Linked DNA regions of Homo sapiens. The protein of the gene in region 1 binds, or shares a complex with, the protein of each later gene. Links are inferred from orthologs where the notes say so. Each region holds a gene or a part of one and is shown in the gene's direction. Other genes may lie near its edges.

Evidence for each region.
Region 2: the proteins of PTPRG (region 1) and CNTN6 are in contact, whole or in part, in a crystal structure (PDB 5E5U), measured with the Mus musculus proteins. The link is inferred for Homo sapiens from one-to-one orthologs. Residues at the interface, in NP_033007.2 of Mus musculus: Val225, His226, His227, Lys229, Phe288, Thr290, Gln292, Gln293, Asp294, His295, Val296, Lys297, Ser298, Val299, Glu300, Tyr301; in NP_059079.2 of Mus musculus: Arg129, Val132, Arg135, Gln138, Gly139, Val140, Val141, Leu142, Leu143, Cys144, Gly145, Met222, Gly223, Tyr225, Glu226, Pro227, Lys228, Glu230, Leu252, Asn306.
Region 3: the proteins of PTPRG (region 1) and CNTN4 are in contact, whole or in part, in a crystal structure (PDB 3KLD), measured with the Mus musculus proteins. The link is inferred for Homo sapiens from one-to-one orthologs. Residues at the interface, in NP_033007.2 of Mus musculus: Lys222, Val225, His226, His227, Lys229, Phe288, Thr290, Gln293, Asp294, His295, Val296, Lys297, Ser298, Val299, Glu300, Tyr301; in NP_001103219.1 of Mus musculus: Thr128, Arg129, Ser130, Val132, Ser133, Arg135, Gln138, Gly139, Met140, Val141, Leu142, Leu143, Cys144, Gly145, Val219, Met220, Gly221, Glu222, Tyr223, Glu224, Pro225, Lys226, Glu228, Leu250, Asn304.

What each region holds. Positions count from the first base shown.
Region 1 is NC_000003.12:61,553,876-61,564,570, forward strand, and holds the start of PTPRG (receptor-type tyrosine-protein phosphatase gamma isoform 1 precursor), read left to right. Parts: upstream 1-7,695; 5' UTR 7,696-8,412; coding exon 8,413-8,497; intron 8,498-10,695.
Region 2 is NC_000003.12:1,395,441-1,405,754, forward strand, and holds the end of CNTN6 (contactin-6 isoform 1 precursor), read left to right. Parts: intron 1-5,992; coding exon 5,993-6,105; intron 6,106-6,877; coding exon 6,878-7,046; intron 7,047-7,877; coding exon 7,878-7,978; 3' UTR 7,979-8,777; downstream 8,778-10,314. UniProt on the Homo sapiens protein: Contactins mediate cell surface interactions during nervous system development. Participates in oligodendrocytes generation by acting as a ligand of NOTCH1.
Region 3 is NC_000003.12:2,093,042-2,103,202, forward strand, and holds the start of CNTN4 (contactin-4 isoform a precursor), read left to right. Parts: upstream 1-5,824; 5' UTR 5,825-5,937; intron 5,938-6,232; exon of another isoform or gene 6,233-7,123; intron 7,124-7,274; exon of another isoform or gene 7,275-7,516; 5' UTR 7,517-7,598; exon of another isoform or gene 7,599-10,161. UniProt on the Homo sapiens protein: Contactins mediate cell surface interactions during nervous system development. Has some neurite outgrowth-promoting activity. May be involved in synaptogenesis.

The sequences.
Region 1 (10,695 bases):
GAGGTCTGGAGATTGAGACCATCCTGGATAACACAGTGAAACCCCGTCTCTACTAAAAATACAAAAAAATTAGCCGGGCGTGGTGGTGGGCGCCTGTAGTCCCACCTACTCGGGAGGCTGAGGCAGCAGAATGGCATGAACCCGGGAGGCAGCGCTTCCAGTGAGCCAAGATCACGCCACTGCACTCCAGCCTGGGTGACAGAGCAAGACTCCGTCTCAAAAAAAAAAAAAAAATTTTTGCCATAAGATGTGAGGTATAGGCTGAGGATTTTTTTTTTTTTGCATATGGATGTCCAATTGTTCTAATATGTTTTGTTGAAAAAAACTATCCTCACTATATGAAATTGCCTTTGCATCTTTGTAAAAATCAATTGGCAATATTATGTGGGCCTATTTGTGGGTTCTCTATTTTATTTCATTATTTCATGTATCTATAACTCCACCAATACCATATTGGCTTGATTAATGAACCTTTATAGTAAGTCTTACAGTCAAGTAATGTGAGGCTTCTAACTTCTTTTTCATAATTGCTTTGCTAGTCTAGTTCCTTTGCTTTTCTATATAAATTTATTATCACCTTGTCTGTATCTACAAAAAGTGGAAATGCACAAATGCATAGATTTATTGAAAATGTATATTTGACTATAATGTCATCCAACCCATGAATATAGTATATTTCTCATTTAATTAGTTTTTATTTGACTTATTTCATGAGCAGCTTATAGTTTTCTACATACTAATCCTACACATATGTTGCTAGGTTTATACTAAAGTATTTCATTTTGGGGAGTTTATCGTAAATGAGTTTTTTTGAATTTTAGTTTTCAATCTTTTGCTGCTCATATATAGACACAAAAATAATTGTTGTAGGTTGACCTTGCATCCTACAACCTTGCTAAACTCACTGGGAACTATGCAGATAATCATGTCATCTGTATAGGGGCAGTTTTATTTCTTGCTTTCTAATATATACGGTTTTTTTTGTTTGTTTTGTTGTCTTATTGTACTGGCTAGAATTTCCAGAATAATGTTGAATAAGAGTGCTGAGAATGTATTATTTACCCTGAGTGAGGAAAAAAAAAAAAAAGAGTGGTGAAAATGAATATCCTTGCCTTGTTTCCAGTTTTGGAAGCAAAGAATTCAGACTTGTATAAGTTTAGCTATGGGTTTTTTTTTAATAGATGTCCTTTATTATGTTAAGGAACCTCCTCTCTTCCTAGTTAACCGAGAGTTTTTATCATGAATGAATGTTGAATTTTGTCACATACCTTTTCTGCTTTAATTGATAGGATCATGTAGTTTTCTTTAATCTATCTTTAATGTAAAAGAGCCTTACCAGTCATATTTGCTATGACTATTTAATCCTTTTTTTTTAGACAGCGTCTAGCTCTGTCACCCAGCCTGCAGTGCAGTGCTGCAATTACAGCTCACTGTAGCCTCAATTTCCCAGGCTCAAGAGATCCTCTCACCTCAGACTCCTGAGTAGCTGGGAGTATAGCCACACACCACTAAGCTTGGCTAATTTTTTTTTTAAGAGACTGGGGTCTCACTATGTTGCTCAGGCTGGTCTTGAACTCCTGGGCTCAAGTGATCCCCCCATCTTGGCCTCCCAAAATGTTGGGATGACAGGCATAAGCCACCACACCCAAACTTAATCCTACTTGTTAAATAGTGTATTAAAACACCACTATATGGCCGGGTGCAGTGGCTCACGCCTGTAATCCCAGCACTTTGGGAGGCGGAGGCAGGCAGATCACTTGAGGCCAGGAGTTTGAGACCAGCCTAGCCATCATGGCGAAACCCCATCTCTACTAAAAATACAAAAAATTAGCTGGGCGTGGTGGTGCACGCCTGTAGTCCCAGCTACTCAGGAGGCTAAGGCAGGAGAACTGCTTGAATCCAGGAGGTGGAGGTTGCATTGAACTGAGATTGTGCCACTGTACTCCAGCCTGGGCAACAGAGCAAGACTCTGTTTCAAAAAAAAAAAAAATGCCACTGCATGTTCATTTTCTTTCAGCCACTGAATATAGGGCTTTTTGTAATGACAAAAGTTATTATTAGGGGACTTAAGAGATTTTCTATGGTTATATATATTTTCAGAATAAATAGGCTTTGCTAAGTCTTAAGTTCTTTAAAATAAACATTGCCTCAAAATTTAAAGTTAGGATGATTACAATGGGTTTTGTTGTTGTTGTACAAACATTCACTTGAGAAGTTGAAAGCCCAGTCACAAATGTGTTTTGTCTATACATGAAAACAAACGAAGGGTAAAAGGTAAATGGGCTTTGTATTTATTTCCTAGGGCTGATGTAACTAAGTACATCCAACTAAATGGCTTAAAACAACAGGAATTCAATGTCTCACAATTCTGGTGGCTAGAAATCTAAAATGAAGGTGTCATCAGGGTTATGCTCCCTCTGAAATCTGTAAGGGAAGTTTTTGCCTCTTCCTAGCTTTTGGTGTTTGCTGGCAATACTTGGTGTTCCTTGGCTTGTAGATGCATCACTCCAATCACATGGCTGTCTTCTTCCTGTGTCTTCCCCTCATCTTTCCTGTGTGCTTGTCTGTGTCTGTGCCCAAACTTCCCTTTTCTATGAAGACACCAGTCATATTCGATTAGGACCCACACTAAGGACCTCATTTTAACTACATTACCTCTGGAATGACCATATGTCCAAATAAGTTCACATCCTGAGCTTCTAAGGGTTAGATACCTTCTTTCAACATTACTTCACAATAATTCAACCCATAACAGGCACTACTCACTTTTAACAGTAGATGAAGTAGATTGTTTGTATAGAAGGCCACAAATTTCCTCCTACCTTTCTATTCATGTCCTTTTGCTTCCTGACTTTGCTGCTTCTCCCATCAAGAACTGGAGTCCATTTCCACCTCCTCTTGAATCTGCCCTGGCCTTGTCTTGCTTTGACCAGTCAAATGAAATGGAAGTAATTTCACACAACTACTAAGTCTAGGTCTCCAGGTGCCTTGCAATTTTCACTCTCACTCTCCTACCTGAGATCTTTTTGTAAATAAGTCTGAGACAGGCTGCTATAGAGATTAGTGGGTGAGGTCTGAGATGCTCCAACCAACAGCCAGCACGAATTGCCAGGCATTTGAGTCAGGGAATCTTAGACTACGAAGCCCCAGCTGAGCATCTGGATTCTGGTGCTATAGATGCATGAGTGACCTCACACAGAACCAACAGAAGAACTACTCAGCTGAGCCCACCCCAAACTTCTGTCCTACTGTTTTAAGCTACTACGTTTTGAAGTGATTTGTTACACAACAATAAATGATTGATACAGAAGAATGTTAAAAGCTTGAGTCTTCTGTTGTTTACAGTCTGAATTGCCTCAACTAAATCACTTAATTCTAACAGCCCCTGCTTCCTTTTTTGTAAAATGTAGATATTTTACTCATCTGTCACCACTGGTTCCAGGTTTCAGGTTTTCAGTTTTAATGAATAAAAACGTAAGGGATAGGAATAAGAGGAAATTATTAGCTCAAGTAACTGACAAGTCAAGGAGTTGGTTTGGCTTCAGGTATGACTTGATTCAAGGACTCAAATGAAGGTATCAGGGATTTGTTGGCCCCCACCTCTGTATTCTTTTTTTCTTCTTGTGTCAGATTCTCAGATGGGCTTGCCCCAAGTGAGGGCCCTCCTTGCAGTATGAGGTTTAAGTTGATCTGGCCTGGCAAACCTAAAAGGAAGTTTGACTTTCATTGGACCTACTAGAAATATGTGCCCATCCCTAGACCAGTCTGGTCAGAGGGATGAAATGCTCCATTTGGTCAGGACTAGGGCACGTGTCCACCTAACCCAGTGAAGTGGAGAGGTGGAGGTAGGGATAGGGGAAGAAAGGGTTAGGCTCACCAAGACCATCTGGGGAGACTGGCACAAAGGAAAACTGGGACACTATTACTAGAAGAAAAGAAATGGACGCTGAGCAGGTAGAAAATAACAGATGTTCACTTCTTATTACATAGGCTGGGTAAACAGATAACAGTAATAGCTTATACTTATTAAATGCTTATTAGGTTCCCAGCACTGATCTGAATAGTTTATGTATATTAATTCCTCTTATTCTTCTCTATTTAGGAAGATGTATGGTTATTATAGTATTCCTACTTTACAAATGAGGAAGCCAAGGCATAAAGTGATTAAGTTGCCTATGGTCATGCATATATGAGTAGCATCAGAATCTAACTAGACTGGCTTGAAAGCTACTGCCTTTAACCTCCAGTCTATATTCAAAATAGGTCACCAGCACTATGGTAGGCAGGATTCTAACATGGTCCCCAAGATCCCCAACCCTTGGCATATAATTCCTTCTTCTTGAAAGTGGGTGGGACCTGTGAACATGACAGGATAGCCACTCCCTTGACTAGGTTACATTATATGACAAAAGTGATGAAACGGTCACTCTCTAGACTCCTGTAGGAGGATTCTCCTGCTGACTTTCAAGGAGTAAGCTGCCATGTTGTGAGGGCGCCGTGTGGCTTAGACCACTAGTTGAAAGCAGCCCTTGGCCAACAGCCATCAAGAAAATAGTAATCTCAGTCCTACAACCACAAGGATCTGAATTCTGTCAATAACCTGAATGTGCTTGAAGGAGGAGCCCAAGCTCCAGATGAGAAAGCCTGGCCCATCCCTTGATTTCAGCCTGATGAGCCCTTGAGCAGAGGACCCAGCCATACTGTGCCCCAGCTTCTCACCTCTAAAAGTGACAGGCAATGAGTATATATTTTTTTAAGCTGCTAAATTTGAGGGTCATTTGTTACTAACGTCAGCATCTTCTCTTTGTAGCCTTTTTATCTTCCATCAGGGTAGCTAGGCTCTCCCTCCTTTGGCACTCCCAGGGCTTTTCACACCAACTTGCTCACTGTTATCATAGAGCTCCCATATCACCTGGGTTAGGATTGTAATTACCAGGTAGGAGCATGGCAGGGCTACTGCTAGGTCATTATTGTGTGACTAGCACTTGAAAGTGTCTATTATATATGAATCGCTCTGTAATTGGTTGCAGAATAAATGAAAAGGCATCTGTGATGTATGTTTGCAAAATTTTATCTTTTGTAGGAACTGGTGGGGCCTGGATTGTGCTTCCAAGGGTAGTTTGGGGGTAACCTTCAGCCTGGGGTCCTAGGACAGTCACCAGTCCATACCGAATTGGATGTGAAGTTTTAGCATGGGGCCTCCTACACTACTAAGGTAGTGGTAATTCACTCTGCAAACCCATATGAGGTTTTCCCCGACTCTGAAGCTCTTTTTTTACATTCCACATTTTGGTGCCTTCTCAAGCCATTATTCTGTTGCCTTGAATCACAGCTGTGGAGGCAAACAGGCCTGGGTTGAGAATCTCAGCTCTGCTGCCCACTAGCTGAGGATCCATCATTGTACTCTTCTGAGCATGTTTCCTTGTCTATTAAATGGGGAAAATAATTCTCACAGCTGGCAGTATTTTAAGAACTCCATGAGAGAACGGAGCATGGACTTAGGAAGGTATGCTCCCATAAGGCATGGGGGCTTGCCCTTTTTGTTCGAGGCTGTGTTCCCAGTGTGTCCCTCAAACAGTAGGTGCTCAATACATTTGTTGAATGAGCAAGCAGTTTATGGCATGAATTCAGCACAATGCCTGGTAGACAGTAAGCATTCCACAAAGGACAGCTTTTACTGTCCATTTCACAGAGGAGGAAACCTCACCTGAGGACGCTGACACAAGTATTTGACGAGTTTTTCCTATTTTATCACTCGACATTAAGAAGGTAGTCAGGGATGCTGGGGTAATCTAACTTGAGGAACGAATATCCCTCATTACAACACTTCCAAGAAAAATGGCCCTCGCAATCCTTTATAAAGAAGTCAGGATTCCAATAAAACCAGGAAGGACCACATTCCAAAGCAAACAAACTCGCCTCATTCCCCACCCTGGGGGAGGGTGTTCACCCCCGTTCTGCTAAAGATAGAGCTAGGGCCCTCCCCAGGAACTTCCTGGCTTTTATTAGTTTGTAATCCCATACGTAACTTTTCAAAGGTTTTTCTTTTGGAAGTGTGGGTGTGAAAATGCTTCCTTAATCACATCGAACGGGAGGATCTCCGACCATCTGTACTTTATTTGAAAACCTAGCATCCGGTTGGGATGTTTGGGTGGGTGGAGGACCCTGCCGTGTTGGGATGAAACAGCAGGGACACGTTTAAAACACAAGAACCATGCGCGGTGGCTCACGCCTGTAATCTCAGCACTTTGGGAGGCTGAGGCAGGCGGATCACAAGGTCAGGAGTTCGAGACCAGCCTTGCCAAAACGGTGAAACCCCGCCTCTACAAAAAAAACCAAAATAAAACAAAAAACAAACAAAAAAAACCACCAAAAAAATAATCAGCCGGGCGTGGTGGCGGGCGCCTGTAGTCCCAGCTACTCGGGAGGCTGAGGCAGGAGAATCGCCCGAACCCGGGAGGCGAAGGTTGTAGTGAGCCGAAATCGAGCCACTGTACTCCAGCCTGGGCGACGGAGCGAGACTCCGTCTCAAAACAAAACAAAACAATCCCACGTCAAGATCGCTTTGAAACACAGGCAGAAAAATTAGGCAAAAAATGTCAAACGGCTAATTACCTTGGCTCAGTTACACATTTACTCGAAAGCCCGCCTCCCCCACTTTTAGCCCCAGCGTTAAGAATGTAAAATAGGGCGCTTAGAAGTCTAAGCGATAAAGATCTTCTTACCGAGAGCCAAGGGACAAAACTCATTACAGATAAGCCTAGTCCTCCCATTTCCCCCGGACGCCTCTCCCCGATTGCTAAAGAAGCAGCCGCTCCCCGGGTAGCTGCCAGGAAATCAGTCCGGCCCCGCGGCGCTGCTTTCACCCTGCAGGGTGTAAGAGGCGCACTTCCTGCGCCCTCCCCGCGGCCAAACCGGGGTGCGGGAACCTTCTCCAGAGAAGCTGCGAGTTGGGGAAACTCCGCCACCGATCCATCGTGGCGCCGGGAAAGGGGATGCGGGGCTCGGAAGGGCTAGATTTCGCAATCCTGGGATCGACATTCCTCCCCTCCCCCACTTTCCCCAGCCTTGGACTGGGCCAATGAAAGCCCGAAAAAGAAAAAAAAAAAAAATTAAATCTCAATGTAGCCGGAGTGCAAAGGCCGCTCGGCTTTGTTTCCCGGCGGGGGAATGCGCTGTGTTGGAGGCGCGAACAGGAGCCGCAGACGGTGAGCCTCACCGCTGCAAATGCCAGGGCAGTGAAGCCGAACAGAAAACCCCATCGCTTTAAAAAGGCAGCTGTCCGCCCTCCCCCTTTCCCCTCGCCAGGGCGAGGGGCCCCTCAAGTCCGGGATCCGCGAGCTGCGCGGAGGATCTCGCCAAACCCGAGCACCGTGCGGCGTCTTTTAAGAGCTCGAACAACGGGAATCCAGCAAAAAACAAGCCGGCCCCAGAAGGCAGCCTCCCTCCTCTCTCCGCGCACGGGCTACAATCGCCCCCAGTCCCCAAACTGTCCCAGTAGAGGCCGCGCGGAGAGAGCAGAGCCGAGGGACCCAGCGCAAGGCGGGAGCCAAGCGCGGCTGCTTTAAGAACGCGGAGAGCGCGCGCCCGCCGCCAGCTGGCCCGGGCTGCGCGCCCCCGCCGCCACCGCGCGCCCCCTGTTCGCTCGCTCCTTCGCTCGCCGGCTTTAAAGTCTCTGCCAGGATCCATGCTCACATGTTACTTCCTGTATGGAGGCATGGCCAGTTTCCAGCCCCGCGCTCTTCGTTCCTTCCCAGCCTGCGCCGGAGCCACAACTTTCAGGAGCATGGACTGAAGGCGCCCTCGCCCCAGCGCCCCTCTGAGATCCTTTGTGTTTTCCTCCGTTTCCTCCGGCCGTTTCTATTTTGGGGGGCTCTCCGCTCCCCCTGCCTCTCCCCTCCCCTTCCCCTCTCGCAAACATGCCTCCTTCCTTCCCGGGGCCCTGGAAGGAGCTGCCTGCCTGAAGCCCGGAGACGCCGCGCCGCGCTCAGCCCCGCCGCCGCCCGCCGGCTCTCGGGCTGTGCTGCGCTGCCGACTCAAGTTGGGGATCCTCGGCTGCTCGCCGCCGCCGCCCGCGGTCCCTGCCTGCCCCAGGCCCGGGGCATCGCCGCCGGCCGCCGACTCCGCGCCCTGCCCGATCGGCTCTCTCCTTTTTAAACGGAAAGCAGCCTTTCTCCGCCGAGAGGATCGTCCCCAGCGTGGCTCTGCGTTCCCGGTCACTTTTTGAGATTTTCCGGGGGGCGCTCGGCGGCTTCCCGGATTCCAAGGGGACTCGGGCCGCCGAGCGCGGGGGGCCCGTGGAGCGGGCGAGCCGGGGAAGCGCCCCGGCTTAGCGGAGGCTCGCACGGAGGCAAGAACTTATTCAACAAGTTTACCTCCCTGCTTTCCTCTTTTCGATGTGCGTTTTCGGACATGCGGAGGTTACTGGAACCGTGTTGGTGGATTTTGTTCCTGAAAATCACCAGTTCCGTGCTCCATTATGTCGTGTGCTTCCCCGGTGAGTGCCGGCCGCCGAGGGGATGCGGCCCCGGCCGGCGCGCGTTGGGGATGCGGAGTTGTCGCCTGGGCGCGGAGCTCCGGCGCCCGTCCGGGAGACCCTGGAGAGGGTGGAGGGTGGCCCGGCGCCCGGATAGGAGAAAAGGATTGCTCCGCTGGCTTGGATGATGTTTAGGGAGGCAGGCTAGTGGTCGAGGAAGGTGGAGGCAGGGGCTGGCCGGGGAGGGGGCTGGGGGACGCGGGGGTCTGCTCCCGCTCCCTTTTGGGGGTCCTGGGGAGCTGGAATCGGGAGAAAGGGGGACTTGCTTTGCTGACTCGTCGCCGATCGGGAGAACTCGAGTTGTGGGGCGGTTGGGGAGACTGAGGCCATGGAAAGGATGCTTCTGTGGGTTTGGGGGGCCCGGGATGAGCCCCCTCGCTCTGGCGGGTATTGAAGGAACTCAGAAGGTGGGGGTTTGCTTTGCTGTTCTCCATCCCTTTGGGAGGGCTAGGTTTCGGGGAATGGAAGTCGGAGGCTGGCTGCGGAGGACTGAGGATGTGTGGGGAGCAGCCTGCGTTCTGGGTCGGGGGCGTCCTCCCTCTCTCTGGGGGCTGGGGCGCGGGCAGCACTTCGGTGCCGGCGTGAGGCAGCCTCCTTGGGCGCAGTGAGACGGCAGGGCGCAGGCGGTTTCGGAGAGATCCGTGTCTCCCCTAGCCCCGGCCCGTGGCCCTTTCCCTCCGCTGCTCTGCTCGATTGGATTGCCTGGGTCTGGACGCGGGGAGGGGGCGGGGGCGGTTTCGGCGGCCGGGGCGGTTTCGGCGGCCGGGTTGCTGTTCGCGCCGGGGCTGATTTTTTTCCTGTCTCGCGCGCCCTGCCTACCTTCATCTTTGCCCTTTTGCAGGCTGTTCGCGGCTGGCAGACCCAGTCTCGCTCCTTTCTGGCCAGGTTAAGACAGGAACAATACTGGCCGTTGATAAGAATAAATCACCGCACGTAACGGTGTGCGGCTCGGCGACCCTCCACTTCCAGCTCTCAGCTGGCAGTTCCCCCTCCTCTCTCCCCTGGGGAGGGCAGAGGCCAGCTGCCTCCCTCTCCTCTCTTGCAGGTCCCCCGGGCAGCAGCCCCGAGCTCCCTCGTAGCTGTCCCTTGGGGTGGAGGCCAAGTCCTGCCCTAGCCCGGGGAAGGGCTGGAAGAAGGGGTGATTTGCTTTTCATCCCTCGCTCCCCTAAGGACAGAGAATTCCCCGTTTTTCTGCCCTCTCATCCATCAACTCCTGCATACCCGGAGGTGGAGGTTATCTGAATCAAGAAAAAGAGGAATGTGCCCCGAGGTCTCCGCTCTGCCTGGTTACAGACGCCTGTCCTCGGGCGGCTGGAGCGCCCGTTTTTGGTGCAGCGGGTCCCTTAGTCCCGTCGTGCGACCCGGAGCAGGGCGCGCGGGAGCCCTCGTCGCCCTTGGGGATCCCCTCGGGGGACTGGCAGCGAATGCCCCCTTTGCAGAATCGGGGATGGCCTCGAGGGGCAGAAAGGGAAAACACCGTCTGGTATTCTGCACCCCCTTTTCTCTCTGCGCATCCTCCTGCCCGCGGAGCGGCACGGAGCTCCAGCCCAGAAACGCAGCTCGGAGGCCGAGCTAGGACGTGCGTCCACACTCACCCTGGGGTTTGCCCACTGGAGTCCTGCCTCTACGGTAGGACACTGGGGCCTGGGGTTTGCCCACTGGAGTCCTGCCTCTACGGCCTCTACGGTAGTGTAGGCCATGGGGACATCTCCCCTTAGAAACAGCTGCCTTCATTCACTAAAAGATCACTGCTCAGTATTTGGGTTAATCATCTCTCCTTTCTAGTCTCCCCTGCTTTACCACGGACTTGACGACTGAGCGGGCTCAGGTGCACACAGGGGTTGAGCTTTGTGAGGGCCACTCTTTAATGGGTGCAGTGGGAGGTCGTGGAGGGCTGCCTTGCAAATTAGAGGAATTTCCAATTCCACTTCTGTCCTTCTTGCGCTCGGGGATGCAGTCAGTGGGCTGACCGTGGTTTTCTTTTCCCTGGTGTGTGAGGAAGCTTGAGATCCAAAATGGGACTGCCAGGGAACCAGCCTTCGTGGGGCTTGGACCATTTTCGTCTTCTCATTTTCTTTTCGCGCCCACGCTGCGAGGTAAATAGCCCCTTTCCTGGTCCGGGAGCCGAGGGGTGTGGGAAAGGGAAAGGACAGTGGTGG
Region 2 (10,314 bases), about 60 Mb from region 1:
GGCTTGTGACCCTCCTTAGGTTTGTGACCCCTTCCTCCATGTTCAATGCCAGCAACAGTAGGGTACCTTCACATCTCTGCCTCTGACCCTCTGCTTCTGTCATCACAACTCCTCTAACTCTCACTTTCTTGCTTCCCTCTTTCCCTTGTACGGACCCTCCTGATGACATTGGAGCCACCTGAATCATCCAAGATTATTTCCTCATCTCCAGACTCTTAATCACATTTGCAAACTCCTTTTCCATATAAAGTAATGTGTCCACAGGTACTGGAGATTAGGATGTGATCATGTTTTGGGGGATCCTTATTTTGCTTACCACAGTTTCAAATTATTGAGCACTTCTATGTCCCCAGCCCTGTATTAACTTTATCATACTAAATCTCACTTAATTATTACAATAAGTCAAGGAGTTTGGTATTTTAATTTCTAGATAGGAGGACACAAATGCTTAGAAAGGTTTTGTCATGGCCTCTGTTAGACTGATGAGCATGAAATCTCTTCATCCCACTACCACTGTGCTCCTTTATCACCTTCCTCCCTAACCATCCCAATAATTTCTCTCCCTGACTGTCAAATCCTCCATCTAAACCTCAAACTGCTTTGAAATTTTTCCTCCTAAAATGCCGTCATACTTCTCTTCTCTTCATCAAATGTCATTGTCTCCTCTATTCCAGAGAATGTAGACTAAGAAAAAGGCAAGCAAGATCTTTCACAATGTGTCTCAAAGCTCCTTTCTATAACATTCCTCTTCTAGCCCTGACATCTCAAACTTACTGATCTTCTAAAGTTTAACATTCACTTACCTGGCTTCATGAAATCTCTCAGCTTGTAGTACCCCTGCCAGGCCTATATATGGTCAAATGGTCTTTTTTCTGCTCTATAGCTTCCCCCAAAATTTCCCCTTTAATGTATTTGCGTTTTTCTAAGAATTCCAATAACTTTGGCCCATTGTGAAACAGTGTTGGAAAAAGTTGGAATGGGACTTCAGAGAGAATTGTGGATATGGATCCCTGCTCAGCCATGTACTATCTGTGTGCCAGATCTAATTATTTGATAACTCTGAATGCATTTTCTCATCTGAAAAATAGAGATGAAGATACTTACCTCTAGCGATTTCTCTGAGAACCAAAGGATATAATGTACACCAAGGTGACCCAGAGGCTGTCATACATCAAGGCTCAGTGCCTGGTAACATGTGTTATTATACTCCTCCTTTAGAGGCAATTTACTTTCTTTGCATTTTTTAAAGTAAGAAACCACAGCTACTTTCTTTCACTTTATAAGTTTGTTGCAGAATTTTCTTTTCTTTAAGGGTCGTAGAAGGACATCCAAAGCATGCATGAAAAACAGCTTTACTGAAACATTGATGATAACCATGATTCCAGGTGCTATTCCTGTATGTAACTTTGACTCTCCATGTCCTTGAGATGACATCAAGATTACCTCTCAATAGTGGTGACTGAAAAAATTCTGCATTCAGCACTGTCACTGTCTAGATTTGTAATCTGATATTTGATCTTCCATTGGAAAGTCTGAAAAAGCAGAGCTCACATTTACCAAAATCTCTGCCTGTTCTAATTGGCTAAGCTAAAGAGAAGACAGAGGTATTTTCTTTGTTTGTTTGTTTTCTCACATGATCATCCAGTCATCTACTCAAGAGATAGTGCCTCCCATGAGCCATGCCTAGAGTTAGATGCTGAGGGCCTAAGAGCAATTAAACCAAGCAAGATCTTTGCCAACCGGCAATTTCTCTTTTAGAGAAGAGGCAACCTAAAACAAGAAAAAAAGACAAATGAATAAAATAATCATAAATTATGAAAAGAACAGTGAAGAAAATAAATGAGAAACTAAGATGTACATAAGGAGCATCTATATGGGATAGGCTATGTATTTTGATACAAAATTAAAGATAAAGAGGAGTTAAAGGACAAAAGAACTTCCAGACAGAAGGAACAGCATATGCCAAACTTCTTAAGTATTATTGTTGCTGTTGATGATGATGATACTAGTATTATTAAACAAATATCAGTGATTCATCTGCAAGTACCAAAGCCTAGTGGAAATGATGGATTTCCAAAAGAAACAGAGGTACTGCAAATATACTGTGATCCACACAGACATTACTTAAATGGAATTTAGATTTACAAGGAAAGAAAGAAAAATATTTATGTCAATTCCAAGCAGAAAAGAAAAGTGAAACAAACAAAACACTACTTATGTGGAAAGAAGTATTCAGACGCAATAACTAAAAGTGTTTGCAAATGTTGGCTCAATTTGGCCCTTGACGTTGACTGACTAGCACTTTGTACTCGATTCTTTCTTGCTGCAAATATGCAATCAATCCATATTTAAACATAAAGGAAGCATTAAGCTTTTATTTTATCTTGCACTTATGTTCTTTCTCTTCTGCCCAAATGTCAACCCCATGCTGTTACTTAGAGGTGTAACATAAGAAGTTGTTTTTGAATTGAGTTCACAGTGTGAACTACAGTTGAAAAGAAATGCCATCTACAGAAAAATTGATTACAGGGAAACCATTAGAATTCTGAGGGGCTAGTTTAATGTTGCTCTGTCATTTGATTAATAGAAAATGATTTAGTCTTTGGAAATTGCCTGGAAAGATTTTAAAAGTTAGAAAAGTGCTTGTTTGCTGAGTTTACCATTGACAGACTTGGTACAAATATCATGACATGTGTTTTGTGCTATCCATGTGGCAGTGTTTTGGTTTCTCAAGATGATAGAAATTTTAATTTTATCATAGATATTTGCAATCCAGTTTAATCAACTATATCAAACCAGAACTGTTAACAGTACTCACATTAAGGTGATGGCCTTCTAAAGCAGCTTTCAGAAGTTTTATTTGTCAATATCAGACATAAAGGATTGACACTGGAGAAACATCCATTGATAAAAATAAGAAAGGATGTAGACTAAGAGATATTCTAAGATAATTAGCTGAGACTCTCCCATTTTATCTCCCTTTCTAAAAACATATCAAGCATCCAAGTAAGAGCAATATTATTAAGGGGAAAACTTGAATGTACACTAATTGTATCTAAGAAGTGAATCATTTGCAAACTTCAGAGTTGGATTATTAGCAACAAACCACTTCGAACACAACTGAAAAATTGATTATGTCATAACACCACAGTGGAGAACTGCTACTCTTGGAAGAGAATTAACAGTTACAGGGCTTTTTAATATATACCACTAACCAAATGAGGAATATTTCATATTTTATTTCATATCTCATAAATTAGGAGTTATTCGTTTCATTTTATAATGGGAAAATCCGGCTCTTGGAAGAGATTGGATACAAATTCAAGTCTCTCTGACATCAAAGCCCAACTCTTCTCATCTCCCAGAGAGCAAGAGAAGTAAAACATTCTAAATAATCTGTATAATTGGCTATTCATACCAAGGTACTCACTCCGAATGCAACTCTTCTCGTTTTATGCCCACAGAAAGTTGTGCTTCTGCTTTGGTAGATGAGGACACAAATGCAAACATGTCAATGACAAAGTCATTGCCAACATTGCAAACTGCTCCTTTACATAGCTGGAAGAAATCAATTCTGTCTCCTAGCCAGTTGATTTTTTCAATGGATTTATAGTGTTGAAAACAATACTTTTTCCTAAAACAAACAAAACATCCGGAAATACATAAAACATTCAGAATCCACACTGCCAATGACACTGAAGTGGTGAATTTGTATTTTCTCTGTATTGATTATATAATGGTAATGTTAGTGCTGAATTTTAAAGAACAGAGATAAAAAGAAAGGTATCAAGAGTAGACTAGATATTAAAATTGCAATATCCTGTGAGAATTTTGATATTATATCTTTTATAGCTGAGAAAAAGATTTTAAAAGGCACTGGAGGATAAGTTGAGGAAGGATAGTTACAAAATAATTCTTGCTGCCATTCAGACCTTTAGAAATAAATATGTTGATAAGCATTATAAATGACAAGTACGTTGTACATTGACAAGCAAAGTAATGGATGCTTAGTAAGCTAAAAGCTTTCAGGCCTTTAATTATGGGTTTATATTGTCAAGAAATGTACCAGGACATGGTCAATCCAATTGGCCTGTCCATCTTATAAATAGGTATGGATTGCTATGAGTCTGACCACGGCAATTGGTCTTGATCATAGGACAACATAATGAATGGATTGGCTGTATTGTGTCACCTATGGATCTGCCCAGAGCCCAGTGCATAATCAATACAGCCTGAGAAGATCACCACAGGGCCCTGAACAGTTTTCCTTAGCCACCTTATTGTACAGTCATTTATTCAACGTGTATGAATTGGATGTCTCCTATGTGCCAGGCACTGTGCTAGGGGTTAGTAATACAGAGTTGAGTAAGGCACTTGCCCTCAAGAAATTTAAACAAACACATAACCAAGAATAAATGTAAACCAATGTGATAAACCTATAATAAAATATGAACTAAGCCTCATGTAAGCATACAGGGAAACATTTCTCTATCACATCCCAACTGGACTGTAAGTGATTGAGTGAACAATAGTGATATCCCAGTGGAAGTGGGGTGGAAAGAGAATGTATGGTAATATATTTGAGACACCTGGATTCAGCAATATGTGAATCTTCCAGTGACACACAGGAGATTAAACAGCAGTTGACTCAAAACTATGAAAGAAATAGTTTCCACTTCTACCAGTGTTATAATGAATTAAATATTATGCTCACTCAGCCTCACAAATTCAAAAGAGATGCCAAAAACATCTTGTTGGGCAGTTTTATCTTTACTTCCACTTTCCAGATGAATTATTTTATATCTCTCCAGTTTCAATCTCAAAAATAGTCATGTGGACTCAGATAAGCAGCAAGTTGTTCTGCAGAAACACTAGACTGAAAGCGCTAGACCAAGATTCGTCAGCTGCATGCTTTTGGATAAGTGACTTCCCAACCTGGATTCTCGTTTTCTTGTATGTAAAATTCTCTAGTTGGACTATATCCATTACTTTAGAAGCCAGATTCTAAATCTTTCATCTCTTATCTCCCACCATCTCTCACGCAGACAACATTAATTTCAGAAAACTAAAAGTCGCAGTTTGGATTTAAAGTTGATGTCCTTTGGGATGATCAATCAGTTTGTGATGATTTTCCCCTTTTCTGGCTTCCCAAAAGCTCCATTTATTTTAAACGGCATGCATCTTTCACATTGTCCAGACACAGTTGATTAAGCTAAGATAGACATACGACCAAATGAAGTCAATCATCAGCTTTCTCAGGGGAACTCAAACTTGGACTATCTCTGAACAGAGGAGGTTTTAAGTTTCAGGTGTGGTGAACAGTCATGATTTCTGCCGTGTGCAGTGAGAATGACAAAGAGGTACTCTCTGGCAAGATGAGTATACAGCAGACCCTGCTTCAATAAGCAGAGTGAAGACTGTGGCTTTGTGACATTTTTTTCTCTCCTCAGACTCTGCTGCAATCTGCCATGACTTATAAGAAATATCCTTGATAATTTACTACAAATATTTTGCTTAAAATATCTTGAGTTAGTTGTGTTACAGTTAGAAAGCTAACTAATACAATGTTAAAAAGTAAAGAATTTTAGGAATGAACATCTATGTGTTGATATATATAAAATGTTTGCAACTTGAATTTGCCAAACATGCTCATTGATTGATGGCCAAATGGAATCCTAGATAAAGAGACCCTCTGTCTGTTTATATATGATAAAGTAAACAAACTCAACAGCAATGATTAATAAATTAATACTGGACATGCAGCAAGCCATTATTAATTCATAAGTCTGTCACAAAGGCATTCCCAAATGACCAGATTTGAATAAATTTGCTTACTGTGATTAGAATTAATATATTTCAAATGACACTGAAGACATTTTAGCTCCTTCTATGCAAATCATCGAAGACTTATTTTTTCTTTTCATGTTGATGCATCATACTTTGACCATGAGCTAATTAACATTCATTTGGATCTTTGATTATCTCTTTAAAGCTCCAAGCCAACCACCAGCAAACATTGCCTGGAAGCTGACAAACTCTAAATTATGCTTGAACTGGGAGCATGTAAAAACCATGGAAAATGAGTCTGAAGTTTTGGGGTACAAGGTGAGTTTTTAGTTTTTCCTTTAATCATATCAATTAAGTTACTAAGGAATGAAACATGTGACACCCAAATGGAAAACAAATTGGATGCATATGGAAACACTGGAATCTTTTTCAAAATTATTTTGAAAATACCATTGCTGCTTTCTAATTTTCCATTGAAAATGTTTTACATTCCAAGGTCCAGTAATGTATTAGGGAACATCAATAAATCAAATTCCATAGGATGTAACATTTTTTCTTCAAGTGGCATCCCTTGCTATCATAAGATGATGGCTTATGTGCATAGTAGATGTGATGACAATGAGATCAAAAAATATATCTAAATAGAGATTTTAGAACTTAGGCTGCAGTATGATGTGATCTTTTAACAACATAAAAGGCATCTAACAAGAGTACAATCAAGTACCCAGAGCAACTCATTTCCATCAGTGACAATGGACATCATCTCTTGGCAGACATATATTCAACATTTGAAATGGGTCCAAACTCAACAGTGACTTTCCACAGCAAGCTCCAATGATAATAGCCTCAAGCTATTTAACTAATAGGGATAAATCTACTCTCCTTCCAGAGGCATTGGCCAAAAAAAAAAACACCTCTTTTTCTTAACAGGAGCAATGGAATATAAGGAAAAGACATCACTTGGATATTTCCATCTGAGGAGTACAACATTTATGATGATGTATCTTATGTCTTACAGTGTTCCAGAACAGTTGTGTGAACCTTAGAAAAGCAACATGTCCATGTTAACTTGATACCTCATTTTATTCAGATTCTGTACCGGCAAAACAGACAGAGTAAAACTCATATTTTGGAAACAAACAATACATCAGCTGAGCTTCTGGTTCCATTTGAAGAAGACTACTTAATTGAAATAAGAACAGTCAGTGATGGTGGAGATGGAAGCAGCAGTGAGGAAATTAGGATTCCAAAAATGTCAAGTAAGTTGAGTCACCATTGCTGTAGTAGATTCTGAACCTAGACAGCTGCAGCATGAAATTCAGCTCCATGAAACCTTCCAGTTATGGCTTAAATGTTGGGTGATAAGATAAATTTTCAATTGTGAGCAAAAGGTGATGAGCCATTTTTTTAAGTTATTCTCCAAAATTATAACATACACTATAAATGGTTTTATGCTTCCTCATTTGAAAACCAAAAAGAGAACAGGAAAAAAAATCTTTGTGTCATTAGAGCATAATTGTATCACTCATTCTATTATCACAAAAATCAGAAAGATTTTTCATAGATTCTTTCGGGTCTTTTACAACAGGAATGGCAAATATGAAGCACAGGTAAATATACACCCTTTCCCATGTTCATGGCAGACATCACTAATCAAGTGTGGCTTTCATAAGGAGCTGAGTCACAACTTTCAAGTCCTCCTCAAAACAATTTTCTAAGCCAACCAACACCAGTCAGTCAGAGTTAGCAGGCAATAATAATGTATCATTTTTGCATTAGAAAAATCACTTACTCATCTGCCTGAAGCTGTGATTGAGTGCAAGTCATTAGCATCCAATGTTGGCCAATCCTTTAGGCAGACTTTGCCAATTTAGGGATTTTCCTTTTGCATTTTTATACTTAAATCAGATGTCCTTGGACAAAGACACGGTAAGGCACTTTCTAAAATTAAATATAATGTGAATGAGACAAGTATAATAAAATATGTTACTAGAAGAGAAATGATAGTATGAAATTGGGGTTTTGAAAAATTAATCTAACAGGCAATACTTTATCTCAAAATATTTTTGTCTTATTTTTATATTTTGCAGGTTTGAGTTCCAGAGGAATTCAATTCTTAGAACCTAGCACCCATTTTCTTTCCATTGTCATTGTGATTTTTCACTGTTTTGCTATTCAGCCACTTATCTGATGAATAAAACCATAAATCTTTGAGAGTTTTTTGAAAGCAAATCATTCTGTATATATGCTCTCCAGCCTCTGACACAAGATGCGTTCTTAATACAGACTTGTTTGCAAAGAAAAAAAAAAGTATATTATTAAAATCCTGTAAATATCTATGGTATATTAATAAAACAATTTTAAACACTTTTGAATTTTAAAATCCGCACATGATTACATGAATTCCTAGGTGCCACATTAACCTGGGGAGTTGTAACTGCTGTGTCTTTTAAGTTACTTATATGGAGAAAATAAATAACTCCCCTCAATGATGCTGATGATGAATACAAACTTGGCTCCTAGTTACCATAACTCACATGTACATTTTTATGTATTCCAGACAATCACTTCAGTATTTAAAATTTCCACCCTACTTCAAAATAAAATACAATTATTTGTTTATAGTTGGGATTCTTTAAAAATACAAACTATTCCAAAGCATGGGGTGCTTTTATCTCTGAATCAAGTTGGAATAAGAAATCTTTTTACTCAAGAATATTTCAATATACATGATGTTCTTCTCAGCCCACTTTTCAGAAGATTCAGTCACAATAAAGGCAGAAAAAGTATTTTATGGCAAAGAAAAATAAATGATGGGAAATGAGCACCCACCTAAAATAATCTTCTAACAACTCTGGTATATATTAAGCAATTGCTCATGGCAAAGTTGAACATTTGAACTGCTGCATGAACAAATCTCAGGTAATTATGACAAGTTGATTGCAATGTATGTGGCCTTATTTTTATAATAAAACAATGTGGAAACAGAATTATTTGATCAAGTTTTCTACACTTTGGTCAAAATATTATTTTTTGCCAATCTTCTCTGCAGCTATGAAAACAATTCTACATGAACCAGGGTTTAGAAAGATTGTGTGGGTTGACTTTTCTCTAGGGTGAGCCTGTTTCAGTCAGTGACCTCACTTCTTAGGATTGTGTAGTCTGGAGAAAGCAGTCTGGGAGAAGGTGAGATTAGTGACCTGGCCCATAGAATGCTATGTAACCACCCCCCTTCCTCCACAAACAGCCTTGAGAGGTCAGTTCCTGCTGTCAGCCTTCTCTGGCTCCCAGCCAGTCAGGTTTGTTGTCCTTTAGAGCTAAATGTGAGAAATGCTCACGTGACTTTTATCTTCTTAACATGGTGCAACCTCTTAATTATGTTGAGAATATTTGAGCTATTCTCACAACCCTCAAATCATACAATCCTCAATATGGGATTTTGTCATTTGCATGTCTGAGGTATTTTAGAACTCTTTAAAATACCCCATGTAGTCAGCAGCAGATGAACAATGGCTTTCATAGTTCAGAACTTGCTCCTTGCCTGAACAGTGTGTCAAGCACACAATGCAAATTAATGAGCCTTATTCTCCCCATTGCCATATGATCTGACTGTGCTTTTGTAGAGCAAAACAAATAAGCAACAACAAATACTATTTGGCACACCCGTGTTAACAGCTGCCTGGCCAAGATACATCTGAATTGACCAGAGATACCAGTGCTGGCACATGGTCTTAATGGTTTCCTTAATTTGGTAAGAGACAAGATTTGTGTCCTCCTCCCCAAAGAAGACATTGAGGGTTAAAAATACTGTGAGGTTTTTGTTTCTACTAATTAAGTGAATCAGATATACAGTCATTTGTGTGTGAGTTCAAAAGCTAAGTTAGTTTTTATCAATAATTCTTATATGTTTGCAGAGTACTATTTAGTTCATGATTTCTGGAATATTAAATGTCTGTATTCACTGTCTAACATATCTAACATATTATTTATCTTTTCATCAGTTCACTAAATTTTTCAGAATATACTTTGGCATTAATAATAAGCAGCATGGGCTTTGGTGCGATAGGAATCTCTCCTCTTAGTGAAAACTTGGACATATTTCTTTTAACATCTCCATTTCACTAATATCAGAACAATAGAGTGTTATGTACATAAGGTATTTGGCATGGTGCAAGGAACATTGTAAGTTGTCAATAAATGGAGCTGCTGTTATCTGCTGCTATGAATTAAATCCCAAATGACATAAGTTATTACGTTTACATATCCAATATATTATGAAAATAGTTTCAACCTGTGTTTATGTCAAAATCCAAACCAGCTTCAAGAAAAATGAATTGATCACCTACTCTCCATACTACATGGCACTCAAGGATGAAAACAGTGGTGATTCTAATAACCTGTTTCAGGGAAATGTTCTACATGATGTGTATACTCCTCTGACATTCAAGAAGGATTTCCAGTGCATCCCTGTATTGACTGAGTAGACTGCTGTTATAAACATGATATGTCATTTCCATACTTCCTACA
Region 3 (10,161 bases), about 59 Mb from region 1:
TTTTGCCCTTGCATAGCACAGAAGGAAAATCTGGTGAGCCGAATAACTTATAATCTTAGGAATGATGTTTTGTGATTTTGATTCCGATCAGTTCTGTGTTGAGCAGTTTTCAGAGGATTTTTTTGCCTGACTCCAAGTAAGACTTTAATTGAATCCTGCCCTTGCAATATTGTCGCATTTGCCTCTGGTGAATCTTTGATTCAAAAGGCTATTGGAGAAACTGTAAGGACAGAGGAGTTGGGACTTTATTGAGCTTACAGTTTGAATAGCTGCTTTTTAATGTCTGCTATGTTGTTATGTGTGCAGAATTTAGCCTTGAATTATCTCTTCTTACAATTTACTACATTATTTTGAGGGTGATGAGGATGAGGCCTAGAGCCCTCATTACCTCTAATTGTTGATCATGGATATCTACCAGAAAGAATCTAATAATTATGAATGAGGAAAGTCACAAGACTTTTTGATATGGTTTGACTCCCTGTCTGCACCCATAATTCTCATGTGTTGCGGGAGCTGCCCAGTGGGAGACAATCGAATCACGGAGGCAGGTCTTTCCCATGCTGTTCTTGTGATAGTGAATGTGTCTCACCAGATCTGATGGTTTTGAAAACCAGAGTTTCTCTGCACAAGCTCTCTCCTGTCTTTGCTGCCCTCCATGTAAGATGTGACTTGCTCCTCCTTGCCTTCCGCCATGCTTGTGAGGCTTCCCAAGCCACGTGGAACTGTGAGTCCAATTAAACCTCTTTCTTTTGTAAATTACCCAGTCTCTGGTATGTCTTTATTAGAAGTGTGAAAATGGACTAATACCCTTTCTGACCTAGTAGATCAAGTTCTGGGAATTTATTCTGAGTTAATAATTTAAAATGTGTGTAAAATTTAACATCAGTGTATTTATCAATGAGTTATTTATCATAGCAGAACACAAACAACTTGAATGCTCAACAATAGAGAACTGATTATCTGTAGTATATTCTGAAATGGAATATTAAGCAGCTTTTAAAAGTGAGGGGATATATAACTATTGAATGATAGAGAAAAGTTCAGGACACATTGAATATGAAGAAACTGATATTAAAAACATGAACAAAATGAAAATATTTAAGAAAATATGTAATTACAGTTATGTGAATACAATGTAAATTGTTTAGGATAAGATGAAAAGATAAATGATTTGATGAATTCTGTATAAATTGAATGTCTCTAAATTGAATCGCATACCATATGGGCGGATGTGGCCGTTTAAAGGAGACATTTGGTACAGTTGACCCTCATTATTCACAGATAACATATTTGTGAATTTGCCCACTTACTGAAATTTACTTATAACTCCAAAGTCAATACTTAAGGCACTTGAGTAGACACTTGTAGACGCACAGAGGTATTTGTAGATGCACAGAGAATAAAAATTGTAGTTGCCCAATGCACACATTCCCAGCTTAGATCAAACAAAGTGATGCTCTGTGTTCTTGTTTCAGCTCTCATATTCTAAAAAAGTCTCCTTTTTGCAGTATATTTAGTGCATGTTTCTCAAATTTTGGGTTTTTCTGTTGGTGATTTTGCTGCTTAAAATGGCCTCGAGCACAGTGCTGGAGTGCTGTCTAGCATTCCTAAGCAAAAGAAAGCTGTGATGTGCCTCACAGAGAAAATACATGTGTTAGATAAGTTTTGTTCAGGCAAGAATTACAGTGCTGCAGGCCATGAGTTCTATGTTAATGAATCAACAGTATATATTAAAGAAGGTATCTTTATCAGTTGATGAAAATCTTGTTACCAGAGGCTGTCAGGAACATAACCCTTTATTGTCTCCAGTGTTTGCAGTGACTTTATAGAACATAATTACTGAGGACATCAGAAATCAACTATAAATACTTTTGCAACTAATAGACCTTTGGAACAATTATTTTTGGATTTTGTATAAAGAATCCAAAAAAATCTGGAAAACGTGTGGCTAAGAAAACAGTTGATTGGTCCCTAATTCCACCTTATTATGTTTAAATTCAGTGGGTGTCTCACAGCCACGTTTATAAAGGAATCTTGGCTGGGGTGTCAGGTTTCTAGTTTACTTTGACTCTATCTGTCAGTCTGTGTCCAACCTTCATGGCAATTAACTGTGCTTTTGTGTGCTAATTATCATTATCCCAGTATGGGCCCATTATTAGTCCAATGTCCTTAGTTTAAAGCTTAAGTGTCAATCAGTCACCTAAAACAATTGCATAGAAGGAAGCTTTGCAAGGCTGGTTTGAAAGTCCTTAGCTGAGTTCTACTTTATTATACTCCAGTTCGAAACTGAACACAAAGCTCTTCTTGATACAATTGTTTATTTAAATACTGATTTATCTACTTAATTAAAGCAAACTTGAGTTTATATTTTAAAATCAGGGATGGGATAATTGCTACTTTATGCTTGAAGATCTATTCAGGTAGCTATACATTAAACAAGTAAAACCGTAATTATAAAACCTGCACATTTTTATCTGATTGAGTCGCTCCTGCCATTGAACGACCTTATTCAAGTCATTTAGAACAAAGAAAGGTGGCATATATGAGTTTTTTAAAATCCCACTGGATGCCAGGAGTAAGGAGAAAATAGCATCAAATCAGATGTGGTCAGAAAAGAGGTATTTCTTTTCCTGTGATGCTTTTCCTCTTTCCTCCTCTTACAGTAAATCCCCACTTATCAAATCTTCAGATGTGTAGAGAAGGAATAAGGCAGGGGTAATGGGGGAGTGGGACAGAGAGATGCCCTTTCTGGAGTTTGCACAACGGTTGCATGCTGAGTAAAACCTGATGATGTATTCCATTCATGTCTCCAAAAAGTCAAAAGCGGTTTCAGCGTTGATTTCCCTTAAGAGTTATCAGTCCTCATTCAATTGGTTTAATGAGTGTAAGAGGTGACCTTGTGTCTATGTAGATACTCCCATATTAAAAGACCTGGATGTAAAACTTCACATATGTGTAAATAGTTATTTTGGAGGGTGTTGTGAGGGTTATTGCAGCTCTCTGCTCAGCTGCTACTCAGGCTAAACGGGCAGGAGAAATTTTCCACTGTGTTAGAATGATGATTATTTGCAAATTACATGAGCACCAGTAATTCATTCATGCAATGATACAGAGCTGGGTCTCAGTGCAGTGGTATTGAACTTGCTGCTGGGGGCGTTAATTGATTCGTTTGGAACATTCCCCTCCAGAGAATCCCAATCACAGGTCCCCTGATCAAGAAACGGACACGCAGTCGGGGTCCTGGATATGTAGAGACACACGTGTGAGGCTGTTGTCATCAAAATAAACCATTTCTGTCCCCTGACAGGGGTTGAGTCTATTAGGAACACTCCCCAATCCTGGGAGCTTCCGCAAGAGGCTTTCTATCTTGGCAGAGGTGGCAGCTGAGCATCGCTTCTTTGCTGCAGGATGGAAAAAAGGGACTGGATTATTGGCTGCATTTTAAACTAGCTGCTGTTCTAGAGAAAATGTTGGGGAGGGACTGAACAAGCTTAGCACTGGATCAGTGTGGGGGTGTGTTGGTGAAAAGAAAAAATGCCTCCTCCTAACTTAACGTTTAACTGATATCCCCTCAACACGACCCAAATCTGTCTCTCCAGATACACAATGTCTGTTTTCCTAACTACATGGTGAACTGTGGAGCAAGTCTTGGTCATGTTTAGTTTGTTTCCCAGAATCTACTAGAAGACAATGCCTAGCATATAGCAGGCACAGAATAAGGGCCAAAGGGGAGAATGGAAACAAAATATGTACATTTGAAATTTAGAAACACAGTTAAGGGACTTTGCCTGAAATTGTCATAAAACTTTGAAAATTGCTTCAATGTATAGTCCCAGTGGGAGAATGTGACAGCATATTTTATTCTTTGTTCTTTTCTGAAATTCTGTGTCCAGTCTAAAACACGACATTTCCCTTTAATGTGTTAGGAGTATGCATGACTACACAGGAATATTTTCTGGAGAACTTCTGGTGAAGCATATTTTGATAAACAGTCTTACTAAAAGTTATATATATGTACTTTTAATTGACTAGTTGCAGAGAAATAATCAATGTAAAAAAAAATCATACATAGTACAGGTAGTAAAAGTCACAGTTCCGGCAGAAGCACAAAAGCCTTCAAAGTGAGTGGGAACCTGGGAACCATTGATCCTCAGTGGCTGTTTACCATGGAAAACACCTGCATCACCAACATTCCAGTTTTGCAAAAGTACCTCTATTACAGACACATACCAGGCAAGGAGGGAGGAAAAAGCCTGAAAATTTCTCTCCAAGTTTAAGTAATCAGGAAACTTTGGTGGGGAGGTTGGGGTGGGGTGGGGGCGGGGGGGTAACTTCTTTATTTAGCATTAATCTCAGCAATCATGAAAGTCATGGAATTTCAAGTGATGAAAAATTTGACCACAACAATACCTATCACTAGCCTGGTTTTGCCCACTTCTCGAACAGGAATTATAAAGATAATAATTAATTCTAAAAAGCAGAAGACAAAACAAACAAACCAAACCAACACTGAATGAACTAATAAGGCTGCTGCATATATATGTTGGAGTTGGATGTTTATTTGCTTACTGCAGTAGTTTAAAAATAGTTTTCCAGTTAACATCTTTTCCACATAGTGGAGATGTCAGGGTAGGTTTACATGATTGCGTAAATGGTCAGAAGTTGTTTATGTAGCTCTGAACTGCTGAGAGATGAGCAGGAAGACCTGGGTTCAGCAAAACCCTTGGGGCTTTTTCCCAGAGAGAGAAACAGAGGCTCCTCTCTGGGTTGCTGGAATGCTTTCCAGACGAATTCGACTGGGTTGGCTTTTCTCTGCCTGTCAAAGTCACTTTGCACAGTGCTGGTGAGGGGCTGGGGCATTGCTGCCAATCTCTACGGTTACCCCGAGGTGTGGAGTTGCGGCGAAGGGAGCCACTTCTGCAAGGAAACAGTAGATTCATAATGTAGAATGACCGTGGCAACGTCGTTCAAAGCACATTCTTTCGAATAACAAGGCTTTCGACATGCCCCACCCCCGCGCACAACACACCACAAATTGATCCTTGTACCTAATTTACAGCAACTGTTCCCTCTGACCTCCCCCCGCCCCCGCCCCACATTCCAACCTGAAAGCACTTTGCGTGGATGAGACTTCAGGTGTGTAACGCAGCCTGTCCAGCCAGTGTCCTCCGCCTAAGGACAGGCAGGTAAAAACCTACCAAAGCCCCCTCTTCTGGCCTAAGTTCAATGCCACCCGCCCACCCACATTCCCCGGTTCAGCAATTTTCAGCCCAGACGCAGAAGCATCTGTTTCCCTGGCCAGGGCGCCTTAACGATCCCCCGAATTCCGCGTCTCCCGGAGGCCAGAGGTTTGGGTACCCAGGAAGGTCGCGCCTCCTCGTGCCCCGATACTCGGGTTGTAAAGGGAGGAGACATCGCCTCGGCGCATCCCTGGCCGCTGAACAACGCAACCCCTACGTCCCCGCACGGGAATCCGGCTGATAATCTCCTCTTGCCTGAGAATCGGGCCAGGCGCCCTTTACTAATTTCGCGCGCTGGGGACCTGGGGCTGCCGCCTCTCGGCCGCGCGGGGCAGGTGCTGCGTCCCCAGCGCTCGCCTCCTCCGGCCGCGCACTGAGCATGCGCGGGCTCCGGGCCTCCGGCGCGTCTCCCCGTCCCCGCTCGTCTCCCGCCCGTTCCCACCCGCCCGCGCCTCTCCCCTTCCCCGAGCGTCTCCCCCGCCCCGCGGCTAAGGAGCCGGCAGCCCGAACTCCGGCGCGCCAGGTTTTTCCAGCCGCCGCGAGCGCCGGGAGGGAGGGCAGCGCCGCGCCAGACGGAGCCCGGGGTTCGACGCCAGGATTGGCTGCAAGTAGGGAGCTTTCGCCGCCGCCCCGGGCCCCTCGGACTGTGCCGGCGCCGCACCCGAGGCTCTCGCCAGCCCGGCGCCCCGGTGCTGAGGTAAGTGAGGCGGCAGCTGTGCGGGTCCGGCTCCTGCGTGGGCGCGCGATGCCCCGGGGACGCGGTCGCGGGTGTGGGGGGGAAAGGGCAGGGTCCGCGCGGGTTGCCCGAAGGACAGGGGCGCTTCCCGGGGCTCTGACTCCCGCGGGGCCGGGCAGCGTCTGCGGGGCCGTCCAGCTCAGAGCCCGGAAGCCCTGCAGGGTCGGGGAGCGGGAGCTGAACGCCTGAGCGCGGAGGACTCAGGGCCCCGACGACGCCACCGTCACCCCACAGCGACCCTTCTTCTCCTTCTCAGCCGGAAAATAAGTTTGTTGCGCTGCGAGGCAGCCACAAAACAAGGAACCGAGAGCCCGGAATGCTGCGGGAAGCCTTCAAGTCAGCTCCTCCGACTGGTTCGGGCTACTGCCCCCTCTCCGTGCGCCCTGGCCTCTGGCGCCGGGTTCCCGGCGGGGCTTTTCTTCTGACAGCCCAGTCACAGCCCGCAGCAGAGGGACGCGAACCTGGGGAGTGGAGGGACCTGGGACTAAAGGAACAGGAGCCCGTAGCCGTGGTGGAAGGAGCCGCGTGGAGACGGAGGCTGATGTCTGTGGCGCCCGCTGGGTGCCGGGCTGGCTGCTGAGCGCTGAGGCTGCGGCGGCGAGCGACAGGCCAGGTGCCTGCTCTTAGGGAAGGTACCTGGCTTCCCCAGTCTCTGCCGCGGGAGCCTGTTGGGTGGCATTCGTTTCCAGCAACTTCTGGGGGGTTTCCAGTTTCTTTCGAGAGGCAAGACAACCGCCCCGTCCCCTCCCCGGGCCCAGACGGCGGCGAACTGTGCGCCGGGCGCCCCACAGACCCCAATCCACTCACTCTCCTTCTGGAACGCGGGGCTCAAAATCTTCGTGCATTTTCTCTCTTGTGCTTCGTGTATATGTTTTACTATTTATGAAGGGTGTGGAGGTGAGGGTAGGAGGACGTGGGCTCCTGAATCCCTCTGAACCAGCCAGAGAGTCGGCTGCATGGAAACATTTCGCAGCGAAGCTCCTGCGAGGAGGCGGCTTCGCGCGTCGGGAAGATCAGGCGGTTGCTTGCTGGCCAGGGTCTGCAGATTCGGTGCGAAGAAGCTGGCGGAGGTTGTGTAGGGCGAGTCAGTGTGACTGAGCACCCTGGGTGTGTGGTCTGCGTGGAGGAGAGTGGGCCGGATCTTGAGGTGTGTTGGAGGTTTATTTGTAAGAGGAGTTCCTGAAAGGAATGTCGTGGAACTTTTTCTAGTTTTCCTGCTGGAATCAACATAGGGGCGGGCACATGTTTGTCAGAATAACAGTGGCATTTAACTGCATGGGAAGCTCTTTCAATTTTCTGTAGTGGGAGCTGGATAGTTCAAGGAGTAACTCCACATAACTGAGTCGTTTGGATACCCACACAAGATAATTTGGAACGCGCTTGTATTTTTTTGTTTTTTGAGATTTCTGGTTTATGTCCTTTAGAGAGTGGGGTAGGAGCGTAAAGACTGTATAGGTTGCCTATGAGCAGGTCCATACAATAGCGTTCCCAAGTCTGCCTAATAGCAAGTTTGTTCTCTCTTTCTCTCTCTCTACCCAAGTGGGTGAAAAAGAACAGTGTGTCATGAAGACAGGCACCTGGAGGTGATTTGGGTGGCATTCATGAGAAAATTCACGTTACCCGTAAGTTTATTCTTGCTATTTTTATCTTGATTTCTTTAAAGATTTTGTGGGAATATCTGCAGTGGGTCGCAGGAGTAGGTAAGATTGCTAAGGATCAAAAACAAGTTTCATGAGAATATTATTTTTGCTACCTTATAAAATAGCTATTGATTTGTTTGTTGAAGCTGGTTTCAACTGCTCTGTCTTGTTGAGGAGAGATGATGCTGATAAACGTCATTATTTTTCCATCTGAACCCTGGGAGGTAGCTGGCAAGGATGGAAAAACTGACCTTTTCAATTAAAGACTAAGAGTCTAAGAGAAGTGACTTGGATAAGGGTGCATGTCAGAGCCACATGTAAGTTTCAACAGAGGTAGATTTTCCTATTTGCAGTTTTTTAAACAACACTTTTCAGTTTCTTTGAGTTGTAAAACTTTTCAAGTCAATTGGGAGTCAATGCAGTACCTTTTTCCATGGTCATTTCATATTGGCAGGTAATTAAGAGTGATTAGAGAACAAACCTTTCAAATGATGTTGGATTTTTTATCATTCACTTATTTTACCTACTTCTCTCTCCTTTTTGTTCAAAAGTAGGTCTTCTGATTTCTTTTCCGATCTAAGCACTAAATCTTTTGGCTGCAGTTTTTCTTCTGAAATGTATACAGGGCATCCGTTCCTTCAATTTAGGTCTTAAAAAAATAAAGCTGCTCAGCAGAAAATTCCCATGCATGGTACTGACTTTTCTACAAGTTTGTCTGATCATGATTTTAACTTGTTGTTTCTTCTTTGTTATATTTGAGGACAGACATAATATGCATTAGCTTCAATCTCTCTTATCTTAAAAATTAATATTTTGTAAAAACTTGCTTTTATATTATTTTAGTTGAATAAGTCTATTTCATATGATAGGCAGGGGGAAGTCTCTACACACTGATTTTTTTTGTTCCTTTTTGTTCATTTTTCCCTGTAATGCTATGTTTTAAGCCTAGTGAAGGAGGCAAGGAGGCAGGATTTACTGCCTAGATTTATTGATCTTCATTATTATTATTATTTACTATCAGAAGAAATCTGACAACATATCAATAAAATTTATTTATAAACTGAAGACATGCTGTTATATGATACACTACTTATAAAACACACAAAGAAACAAAAAAGATGAATAAAGCAAAAATTATGAAATAGAAGGTCTCATGTTGCTGTTATGTATCCCGGTGGATCATTTTGTACAGCCCCTGGGGTGTGTAGCACACTTTAAAGATCACTGCTGGTTTGATATTTTTAAAATCTTTCTCTCCTTATCTCTGCTCTGCTGTTCATCATCTCTGATACTCTAGCCAGTTGTAAAACTGCTACACTTCTATATCTTCTGTAACAAATAGATTAAGCACACTTGTTTTCCTCTCATGGACTCATATGTGGATAGAATGAGGTGTAAAGGATGAATGTGTTTTGGAGATGTCATCTTAGATCTCCCAAAGTAGACATACAGGTGAATTTTAAAAAATGGAGTTTTAGTTTAAAGACTAAGTACCAATGGTCAGGAAGTGAAGAATCCAAGGAGTAAATGAGGGAGGATTGGAAGGACACTTTCCACATTGCAGTGTTGTGTGGAGGCTGGAAAGTTCATAAACCTTGAAGCAGATTAACCTGAATCTAAGTCTGGCACCATCATTTATTACATTTACAGTCCTGGGCAATGTAGTTCCTTAATTTCTGTGAGCCTTAGTTTCTTTAGGTATAAAATTGGGATAACATCTATTTCACGGCATCACGATAGGGATTAAACATGAGAGCATGAGTCAACATGGGTCAAGAGCTTGGCTCTTTTAGATTGGCTCTTTAGCAGATATAACAGATCCAAAAGGGATACTGCCTCAGATGTGAAATATATTTATTTCTCGGTTGTGTGAAGTCCCAGAATGGGTGATCATGGCAGTACTCCTTCAAAGTGTGATTCAGAGACCCAGCCTTCATCTGTTCTGTGCCCTTGCCGTCTTCAGCAGGGTCACTGTGCTTACTTGCATCAAGCCATTGGAAAGAGGAAGACTTGGGAGGATGTTAATTGCCCAGAACTGGAATGAGTGCATATTACTTTTCCTTGCATTGTGCTGGCCAGAACCCAGTTCTTTGTGGATGTACGTTACTATTAAGGAGGCTGGGAAATATAGTCTAGAAATGTTATCCAGGAAGTAGAAGAAATTGTTGGGGGAACAACTAGCATTCTCTGATGTTTTATTACTATATGTGATATTTCTTCCATGTTCAATAACTGTTACTTCCTTTTCTTCTCCTAACCCTTGCTTTTTTTTTTTTCTGGTAGAAAAACTGGAATGGATACAATAAATAATAATAGAAGCAGTTAATACATACATAATGCTTACTATTATTGAGATACTTTTTAAAGCACATTGCCCTACTTTGCCCTTCTAATATTATCTCTATTGTACAGATGAGGAAAACTAGGCATAGAGAAATTAAGTTATTTGTTCATCATAGCTAGTAAGTAGCAGAGCTGGGATCTGAACCAGGTTCTCTCACTCCAGAATTGATTTTTTAACAGCTTTTTTTTTTTTTGCTTTTGC